Homo sapiens: one gene and its partners. The protein of the gene in region 2 purifies or fractionates together with the protein of the main gene of each other region. This does not show direct contact. Each region holds a gene or a part of one and is shown on either strand. Other genes may lie near its edges.

The links.
Region 1: the proteins of KIF16B (region 2) and CPNE7 purify together in Homo sapiens (affinity purification with mass spectrometry; one large-scale study listed by BioGRID and IntAct). This does not show direct contact.
Region 3: the proteins of KIF16B (region 2) and PTPRN purify together in Homo sapiens (affinity purification with mass spectrometry; one large-scale study listed by BioGRID and IntAct). This does not show direct contact.

The regions. Positions count from the first base shown.
Region 1 is NC_000016.10:89,592,639-89,595,290, forward strand, and holds part of CPNE7 (copine-7), read left to right. Parts: exon of another isoform or gene 1-1,326; intron 1,327-2,652. UniProt on the Homo sapiens protein: Calcium-dependent phospholipid-binding protein that may play a role in calcium-mediated intracellular processes.
Region 2 is NC_000020.11:16,273,949-16,276,528, forward strand, and holds part of KIF16B (kinesin-like protein KIF16B), read right to left. Parts: intron 1-2,580. UniProt on the Homo sapiens protein: Plus end-directed microtubule-dependent motor protein involved in endosome transport and receptor recycling and degradation.
Region 3 is NC_000002.12:219,295,799-219,299,456, reverse strand, and holds part of PTPRN (receptor-type tyrosine-protein phosphatase-like N isoform 1 precursor), read left to right. Parts: intron 1-72; coding exon 73-152; intron 153-345; coding exon 346-410; intron 411-1,353; coding exon 1,354-1,572; intron 1,573-2,023; coding exon 2,024-2,224; intron 2,225-2,324; coding exon 2,325-2,472; intron 2,473-2,634; coding exon 2,635-2,708; intron 2,709-2,940; coding exon 2,941-3,018; intron 3,019-3,111; coding exon 3,112-3,231; intron 3,232-3,658. UniProt on the Homo sapiens protein: Plays a role in vesicle-mediated secretory processes. Required for normal accumulation of secretory vesicles in hippocampus, pituitary and pancreatic islets.

The DNA of each region.
Region 1 (2,652 bases), on a different chromosome or scaffold from region 2:
TCACAGTCTTGGCCAGGCTGGTCTTAAACTCCTGACCTTGTGATCCACCCGCCTCGGCCTCCCAAAGTGCTGGGATTACAGGAGTGAGCCACCGCGCCCAGCCCAAATTTTTTTTATTGTGATAAAATATGCACAGTTTAAAATTTACCATTGTAACCATTTTTTTCTTTTCTTTTTTTTTTTTTTTTTTTGAGATGGAGTTTTACTCTTGTCACCCAGGCTGGAGTGCAGTGACGTGATCTCGGCTCACTGCAAGCTCCGCCTCCCGGGTTCACGCCATTCTCCTGACTCAGCCTCCTGAGTAGCTGGGAGTACAGGCGCCCGCCACCATACCCGGCTAATTTTTATATTTTTGTAGAGATGGGGTTTCACTGTCTTGGCCAGGCTGGTCTCAAACTCCTGACCTCAAGTGATCTGCCTGCCTCAGCCTCCCAAAGTGCTGGGATGGGATTACAGGTGTGAGCCGCCGCACCTGGCCTGTAACCATTTTATTGTATCCAGTTCAGAGGCACGAGGTACATTCATGATGATCAAACATCACCCGTCTACTTACATCTTCAAGCCAAATGGGAACCCTATATCTGTTTGCATCTATTTTTAATTTATACAGATAGTATCGTGATAAAGACTTTGATGCTTTTTAAAAAACTTGGCACTGCACACACACATTTGTGAACCGTCCGAGAGCACGTTGCAACATCACGGTTTTACCTCTTAATATTTTTTTTTTTTTGAGATGGAGTCTCGCTCTTCACCCAGGCTGGAGTGCAGTGGCGCGATCTTGGTTCACTGCAAGCTCCGCCTCCCGGGTTCACGCCATTCTCCTGCCTCAGCCTCCCAAATAGCTGGGACTACAGGCGCCCGCCACCACGCCCGGCTAATTTTTTGTATTTTTAGTAGAGACGGGGTTTCACTGTGTTAGCCAGGATGGTCTCGATCTCCTGACCTCGTGATCCGCCCACCTCGGCCTCCCAAAGTGCTGGGATTACAGGCGTGAGCCACCGCGCCCGGCCTACCTCTTACTATTTCAGTGTATATTTCCTAAGATCAAAGATATTCTCTTGTATAACCATAGCACAAATACAGATTTCAGGAAATTGAATTTAGATACAATCCTTTTATCTAATACATAGACTATATTCCAATTTCATTCATTGGCACAATCATAACTTTCAAAGCAGTATTGTTCCTGGCCCAGGAGCCAGTCCGGAGTCGAGGATTGCGTTCAGCTGTTATGTTCCTGTGTGGCTGGGAAGCGGGTCTCAGACGGTTTCATCTGTAAATGTCAGTATCAGCGTCTAATAAAGATAAGCCTCTTTTTAAGCAGCCACGACACCTGATCACACCTAACCACCACTCCTGGCATTGCACATCCGTCTGGTGTTTGTGTTTCCTGTTGTCTTACCCGTGACATGGTTTTCTGTGGTTAGAATTGGGTTGAAACGAGGACTCAGACATGATCAGCTGAGCCCTCGGTCCCTCTCCTGGACACGAAGCTCCCGCCCTAGTGGGGCCCCACGGTGGGTTTTGGTGCCTGGTGCTCGCACAGTTGGCAGAGGGGGGTGGGGGCCTCATCTGGGGTTGGGAGGGGGTGGGGGGCTTTCTGAGGCTGGGCTGTTTATCTGGAGGCCGAGAGCCAGGCTGGGCACAGCCGTGGGTGCTTGTAGGCCTGGACCAGAGACTGCCTTGCAAACAGGTAATTCTTCCCACAGGTGTGGGGCTCAGAGAGGGGGAGATGGGGAGGGCACAAAAAGAGAGCCTCTTGGAGAAGGCGACTCTGAGTGGGGTCCTGGGGCCCCTGTTCGTTTCCAGGACACATCTGCCCTCAGTGGGACGGGCTCAGTCAAGGCCAGCCCAGGGGAGGCTGCTGTGGGCTCCCGCTCTGCTGCTCAGGCGAGCCCTGCTTCTCTTTATGTTTCCCGTTGTCCACAGTTTGGGCAAGATTATTGAGTGGGGTTTTTTTTAAACAATGGAAGTTGATTTTATTTGAAGTTCCATTCTGCCTTTTTTTTTTTTTTTTTTTTTTTTTTTTTGGAGACAGTCTCACTCTATCGCCAGGCTGAAGTGCAATGGCGCGATCTCAGCTCACTGCACCCTCTGCCTCCCAAGTTCAAGCGATTCTCATGCCTCAGCCTCCCGAATAGCTGGGATTACAGGCGCCCACCACCACGCCCAGCTAGTTTTTGTATTTTTAGTAGAGATGGGGTTTCACCATTTTGGCCAGGCTGGTCTCGAACTCCTGACCTCAGGTGATCCGCCCGCCTCGGCCTCCCAAAGTGCTGAGATTACAGGCGTGAACCACCGCGTCCGGCCAACACTCAGTCTTGTGGCAGCACAGCGGGCACCCTGGAGAGACTGGAGCAGGGTGTGTGGGCTGCAGGTCTGGCTCCTGGGATCGCAGATTTCTCCTCTGGCCTCAGACCTCCCATCCAGGCACTGTGAGCTCATCAGTAAAATGTAGACTTCGTAGCACCCCCTCCACAGCCCTCCGTGAGACTCGTGGAGATTTCCTGAGCTGGGCACAGGAGGCCCAGAGTGCCCGCCACGGAGGGGGCTCCTGACCCACTGTTGTTCGTGATGTTTGTGATGTAGGCATCACACTCTGAAGGCGGTTCTAGGAAGCTCTGACGCACGGAGGCACTCTGGGCTGTC
Region 2 (2,580 bases):
TAGGAAAATGTCAAGGGTGCCAGGCACAGGGGATCTGCCTCTCAGCCACAGTGTCACTAGTTAATCTCTTATTTAAAAAAGTCATTTCCTCCCCGCTCCCAGTTACTCATTAAATAGAAAGATGATTAAAAAAAAAAAACAAAAAAAAAAGGCCGGCCATCTGTACAAGGTTAAATGTGCTGCTTACTGGTATTTTAAAATTGCACAGTCAGTATCTGTTTTGAATCCTTCTTATAAAATAAAGGGAAAGCAATACTGAGGACAAGAGGGTCAGTTCCAAGTACTGATATTTACAGATCTTTTTGCATGTCCTATAATCATCAACAAAAAGGAATCCTTACTACAATTACTTGCTCCAGACCCCTGCTGCATGTTTGTTGCAACATTATCTGCCGTTTTTGGCACTGAGAAAGCAAAGCATATGTGAGACTAGGCTCTGGGAACTGGGGATAAAATCAGATGTGGGAGCTGGAGGGATGTGTTCAAGGAAAAGAGGGCACACAAGAATAGTTAATATATTTTAGGCCAGGCAAATCTCATCTGTAACAGAAAATGGGCTGGAGGGAAGGGGTTAGACCCAAACCTTTATTATTGTCTCAGTGTGCTTAAAAAACCCAAACAACCCTGGCACAGTCTTAGGAATTACACATAATAATTCTGGACTCTGAGTAACAACAAAAAATTTGTGAAAGCAACATGGCCTAAGCCTGGAGCAGTAGTTCCCAACAAGAGGCAGTTCTGCCCCATAGAGTGTTCAGCAGTGTTTGGTGGCAGTTTTGAGTGTCACATAGGGGTGCACAGGCAGTGCACCTGGTGGATGCTGGCCAGGGATGCCAAAGCACAGGACAAAGAATTATCTGGCCCAAATGTCGACGATGCCACAGTTGAGAAGAGAAAGTAGAATTTAGCTACCTCTATGAATTGCCAACCTGAAATTTCCTTCTGAAAGAAGACATTCTACTCAACGAGAATTTGTTAATTCTCCTTCAAAATATTAATGAGGACTACTAACAACAACACTTGTAAAATAACTTAGTTTCTAAAAATCTTCTAACATCCAATGTTTTACACTTAATGGAAGTAAAACTGGTGCATGATAAATTGTACTTTTTTTTTTTTTTTTGAGACGGAGTCTTGCTCTGTCTCCCAGGCTGCAGTGCAGTGGCGCGATCTCAGCTCACCACAACCTCTGTCTCCTGGGTTCAAGCAATTCTCCTGCCTCAGCCTCCTGAGTAGCTGGGACTACAGGCATGTGCCACCATGCCCAGCTAATTTTTTTGTATTTTTAGTAGAGACGGGGTTTCACCATGTTGGCCAGGCTGGTCTCAAATGCCTGACCTCAAATGATCCACCCCCCTTGGCCTCCCAAAGTATTGGGATTACAGGTGTGAGCCACTGCGCCCGGCCAGATAAACTGTACATTCTTTAAATGTATAACTTCATGAGTGCTGACCCATGTGAAACCACCATTAAATCAAGATAAATATTTGCATCCCCTTCAAAAGTTTCCTAAGGCACCTAACTTTATGTTATCCTTACACTTGGCCTGGAATCACATCTTCTTCTGGTATTACCCATTTCCTGGTAAGGAAGCTATTGCCAGGAGAGGTGAGCAAGGCTAGTAATCTAGAGAGAAGACTTGAAAGCAAGTATTCTCAACTCAAGATGTTTTTTCTTGTTCCATATCCCTAACTTACTGGTCTCATGGTACCCTCTCAAGAAACGATCCTGAAATTGAAATTAGGTATTGGTAAGAAGTTATGAAAATCAACTGCTGAAAAGTGAAGATCTTAATCTTAGTAATTATTTTTATCAGAGGGGCAAAGAGAGACCTGACTTCCACTTTTCTGCGGGAAGGGACCCTGAGAATATCAACTTTAAAGGGACTTGAATTGCATCAAACAGGGTCACCAGTATATATCGTAGACTACACTCAACCAGCCAATGCTCGCGGTGCAATGCATGTGCACAACTGATTGTTCTGGGAAGATCAAGGGTGAGATGATTTGGAAAACGGGAGATGCAGAGCTTGCTGACTTGTGCATGGAGCCACTGCTCTTTCACAGTTTAATGCATGATAGAGCAAGGCTCGCTGCACAGGCCTCATCTCAGGTAGCTCCTGTGGGCTCCGGCTTCAGGTCTCCCACAGGCTGCATTAACAGGCAGGCTGATGTTTACAGCAAAGCTGACTTCAAGATGAACTCTGACAGACTGGAAGGCAATTTAAATCTGGGAGCAGATGTTATATCAGCATTTGTCATAATTAGTACACAAAGTAGGGTCCCTATAAAGGGCCAATAAAGCCTAAAGGGTATAATAAGAAGAGAAGTAAAAGTTAAAAATATAAATGAAAGGAAAAGAGGAAGTATTTGAGACACCTCCCTTCAAGAGCACCACCATAAGAAGAGAACAATACAACTGTCAGGTAATGTCTTTTTCTTTAAATAAACTCATTAGTGTTGTTTGACAAAAACTCCAGATAGAATGATCTGATTTGACTAATTCTAAACATTACAGAAGAGTTTTCTCTTCGCAAAACAAATTTCTGCTTAAGGAGAATTAGGCAGCTTTCGCCTCCTT
Region 3 (3,658 bases), on a different chromosome or scaffold from region 2:
CCAGAGCTGGCCTCTTTTTTGAAGTCTGCGGTCTGGGGTGGAGAAGGCAGTAACATAGCTCCTATCTGGCAGTGTGGTGGGACCAGCCCTCACCTTCCGCATCCGGCACAATGAGCAGAACCTGTCTTTGGCTGATGTGACCCAACAAGCAGGTAAATATCTCTGCGACCTCAATCCCAGGCTTGGCCCCAGCCCCACTCCTAAGAGGATATATCCAGGCCTGTTGCTGATGCCCCCTTGAAATGTTCCCAGCCCACATGGGCCCTGCCTGCTGCTTGGCAGAGCAAGACAGAGGATGGAGACCACATGGGGCTGGAGCAAGCCTGACCTTTGTCCTCCCTGCAGGGCTGGTGAAGTCTGAACTGGAAGCACAGACAGGGCTCCAAATCTTGCAGACAGGAGTGGGACAGGTATGCGCTAACTGGAGAATCAGTCCAAGTCCCCAGAGGGCTGATGTTGTCCGCAAGAGCTGGAGGCAAACCAGAGGGGAGAACTGGAGCCGAAACGTGTCCGTAGGCACGGCTGGCTGGAGGCGGCCTTCGCCCAAGCAGCCCCTCCCCGCAGTTCTCTTTCTCACCAGCAGATGGCGTAGGTGTCCCCTCCCTGCAGGACCAGCCCTCTGTAGTAAAAAGGCCTGAGAACTAGTTGAGCCGCCCTTAGTCTGCTGGAGCGCAGTCTCCAAATTCCAAGGGAACACCTTGCACAGAAAGGACATTATACTCAAAATATGTTTTGTTTGTTTGTCTGAGACAGAGTTTCACTCTTGCTGTCCAGGCTGGAGTGCAGTGGCTCGATCTCGGCTCACTGCAACCTCCACCTGCCAGGTTCAAGCGATTCTCCTGCCTCAGCCTCCCAAGTAGCTGGGATTACAGGTGCCTGCCACCACACCCGGCTAAATTTTTTTTTGTATTTTTAGTAGAGATGGGGTTTCACCATGTTGGCCAGGCTGGTCTCGAACTCCCGATCTCAGGTGATCCGCCAACCTTTGGCCCCCCAAAGTGCTGAGATTACAGGTGTGAGCCACCACGCCCGGCCTATACTCAAAATACCTTTGTCTTCTGCATCCAACACTGATGCCTCACGTTCTACAATTCAATTCCTAGGGTTCTCTGTCCGTTTTTAAATGCAAACACTCCTGGTGGGGGCCTCTGGCACTGCACTGTGGTTGAGTTGATCCGATGGGGATTGAGAAGGAGAATCTGAGCCCATCTGGCTGTACCACCATACCCCTAATCTCCCAGCTTTGCCCCAGGAGATGTCCTAACAGGGGGTGTGGCATGGGACCGGGGTGAGGAGCAGCTCTGAAACCTCCCTATGCCACTGCCTCCCTTGATTCTAGCCTTGTTCCCACAGAGGGAGGAGGCAGCTGCAGTCCTTCCCCAAACTGCGCACAGCACCTCACCCATGCGCTCAGTGCTGCTCACTCTGGTGGCCCTGGCAGGTGTGGCTGGGCTGCTGGTGGCTCTGGCTGTGGCTCTGTGTGTGCGGCAGCATGCGCGGCAGCAAGACAAGGAGCGCCTGGCAGCCCTGGGGCCTGAGGGGGCCCATGGTGACACTACCTTTGAGTACCAGGTGTGCAGCCCCAGAAGCTGATTGAGCAAAGGAAATGCAAGGGGCCTGGGAGTCTGGGTCTTGCGTGGACTAAGGGTCGGAACTGAATGGGGAGTGAGCCCTCATCCCTGGGAAGGTCCAGTGGAGGCTGGAGAAGCCCCAGTGGGAGGGAGTATGGTAGGGGCCTTTATGAACGCATGGGAATTGGGAGCATACAGTGCCTAAGGTTCTTCTTGGTGCTGTGCTTCTGGGGCTCTGGGATTCCACTCTGTCATGTCTGAGGTTGACATAAGCACCACCCAAGCAAAACAGCCCTGGAAAGGATCAGGGCCAGGCAGAAGACCATACCCCAGAGGAGCTGAGTTCCACTGAAAATCAGTCAAGGGCAAGCCTAGGAGCCCAGAGTTGAACCCAGGGCCCTGTTGAAAAGTTTCAGGGGACTCTTGGACCTCACCTGATTCTTCCTCCACAGGACCTGTGCCGCCAGCACATGGCCACGAAGTCCTTGTTCAACCGGGCAGAGGGTCCACCGGAGCCTTCACGGGTGAGCAGTGTGTCCTCCCAGTTCAGCGACGCAGCCCAGGCCAGCCCCAGCTCCCACAGCAGCACCCCGTCCTGGTGCGAGGAGCCGGCCCAAGCCAACATGGACATCTCCACGGGACACATGATTCTGGTCAGGACAGGGCCTGGGCCCAGAGTGGGTGAAGGAATGGGATGGTGAGAGAGGCCAGGCTGGCTGTGTGGGCCAGAGCCAGACCGTGGTGCCCCCACAGGCATACATGGAGGATCACCTGCGGAACCGGGACCGCCTTGCCAAGGAGTGGCAGGCCCTCTGTGCCTACCAAGCAGAGCCAAACACCTGTGCCACCGCGCAGGGGGAGGGCAACATCAAAAAGAACCGGCATCCTGACTTCCTGCCCTGTGAGTGAACCCTGCTGGCCCACCTGGCCCAGCCCTCTCTCTGCTGCGAGGTCTGGAGGGCTTGGGGTAAGGGGTTGGGCTTCTGGCTCAGGCTGAGTGGCAGAGGTCCCGCGATGCCAATGACCAGAGGGCCATCTGGGGTGGGGTGTCGGGTCTGTGCAGATGACCATGCCCGCATAAAACTGAAGGTGGAGAGCAGCCCTTCTCGGAGCGATTACATCAACGCCAGCCCCATTGTGAGTGGCCCTGACTCCAGCCCCCACCTCTGCCCCATCATTATCCTGGCCCTATGCACTCCATTTCCCCGTGGTCACCTGCCACCCCACCAACCCCCTGGAGTGGTGGGGCCTGATATCCTAGCAAGGGGGAACTGCCAGCCTTCTCAGACCCTGACCCACTTGCTCTGACCACGCCTGTCCATAGTGGCATTTCCCACACTGGCTCATGGTGTATCTTCCCTGCCTCCAGATTGAGCATGACCCTCGGATGCCAGCCTACATAGCCACGCAGGGCCCGCTGTCCCATACCATCGCAGACTTCTGGCAGGTGGGCTCTTAAAGGGAGGGCTTCGCTGGGGTCCTTGTGGCCACGAGGTCCCAGGGAGGTTAGAGTGGAGCTCAACTGGGTCTCTGTCCCTAGATGGTGTGGGAGAGCGGCTGCACCGTCATCGTCATGCTGACCCCGCTGGTGGAGGATGGTGTCAAGCAGTGTGACCGCTACTGGCCAGATGAGGGTGCCTCCCTCTACCACGTATATGAGGTCAGCAGGGCCCCACAGCAAGGGGACAATGGATGTGGGAAGAGTAGATGATGGCCTTTTCGTAACGTTTTCTTCACCAAATGAGCACTCAACAGTCTTTTTAAAAAGGCTTTTATTGGCCCTGCTCATGATTCATACATATATGAATATATATAAACACATATATGCATACCCATATATTCACATATATACATGTGTGTGTCCTGTTTACAGAACATACATGTGTGTGTGTGTGTGTGTGTGTGTGTGTCCTGTCTAGAGTCAAAAAGCGTTCATAGAGACTTATGATAAAGGCACAGAGATCAAACTATAAAACCACCAAAACCGAGGTAAGAAGCTAACAGCTAAGTGTATATTAGACAGGGAAGATAAGGATACCCAAAGACTGAGATTAAGACCTACGTTAATTGAACCTAATTTAGCTCTG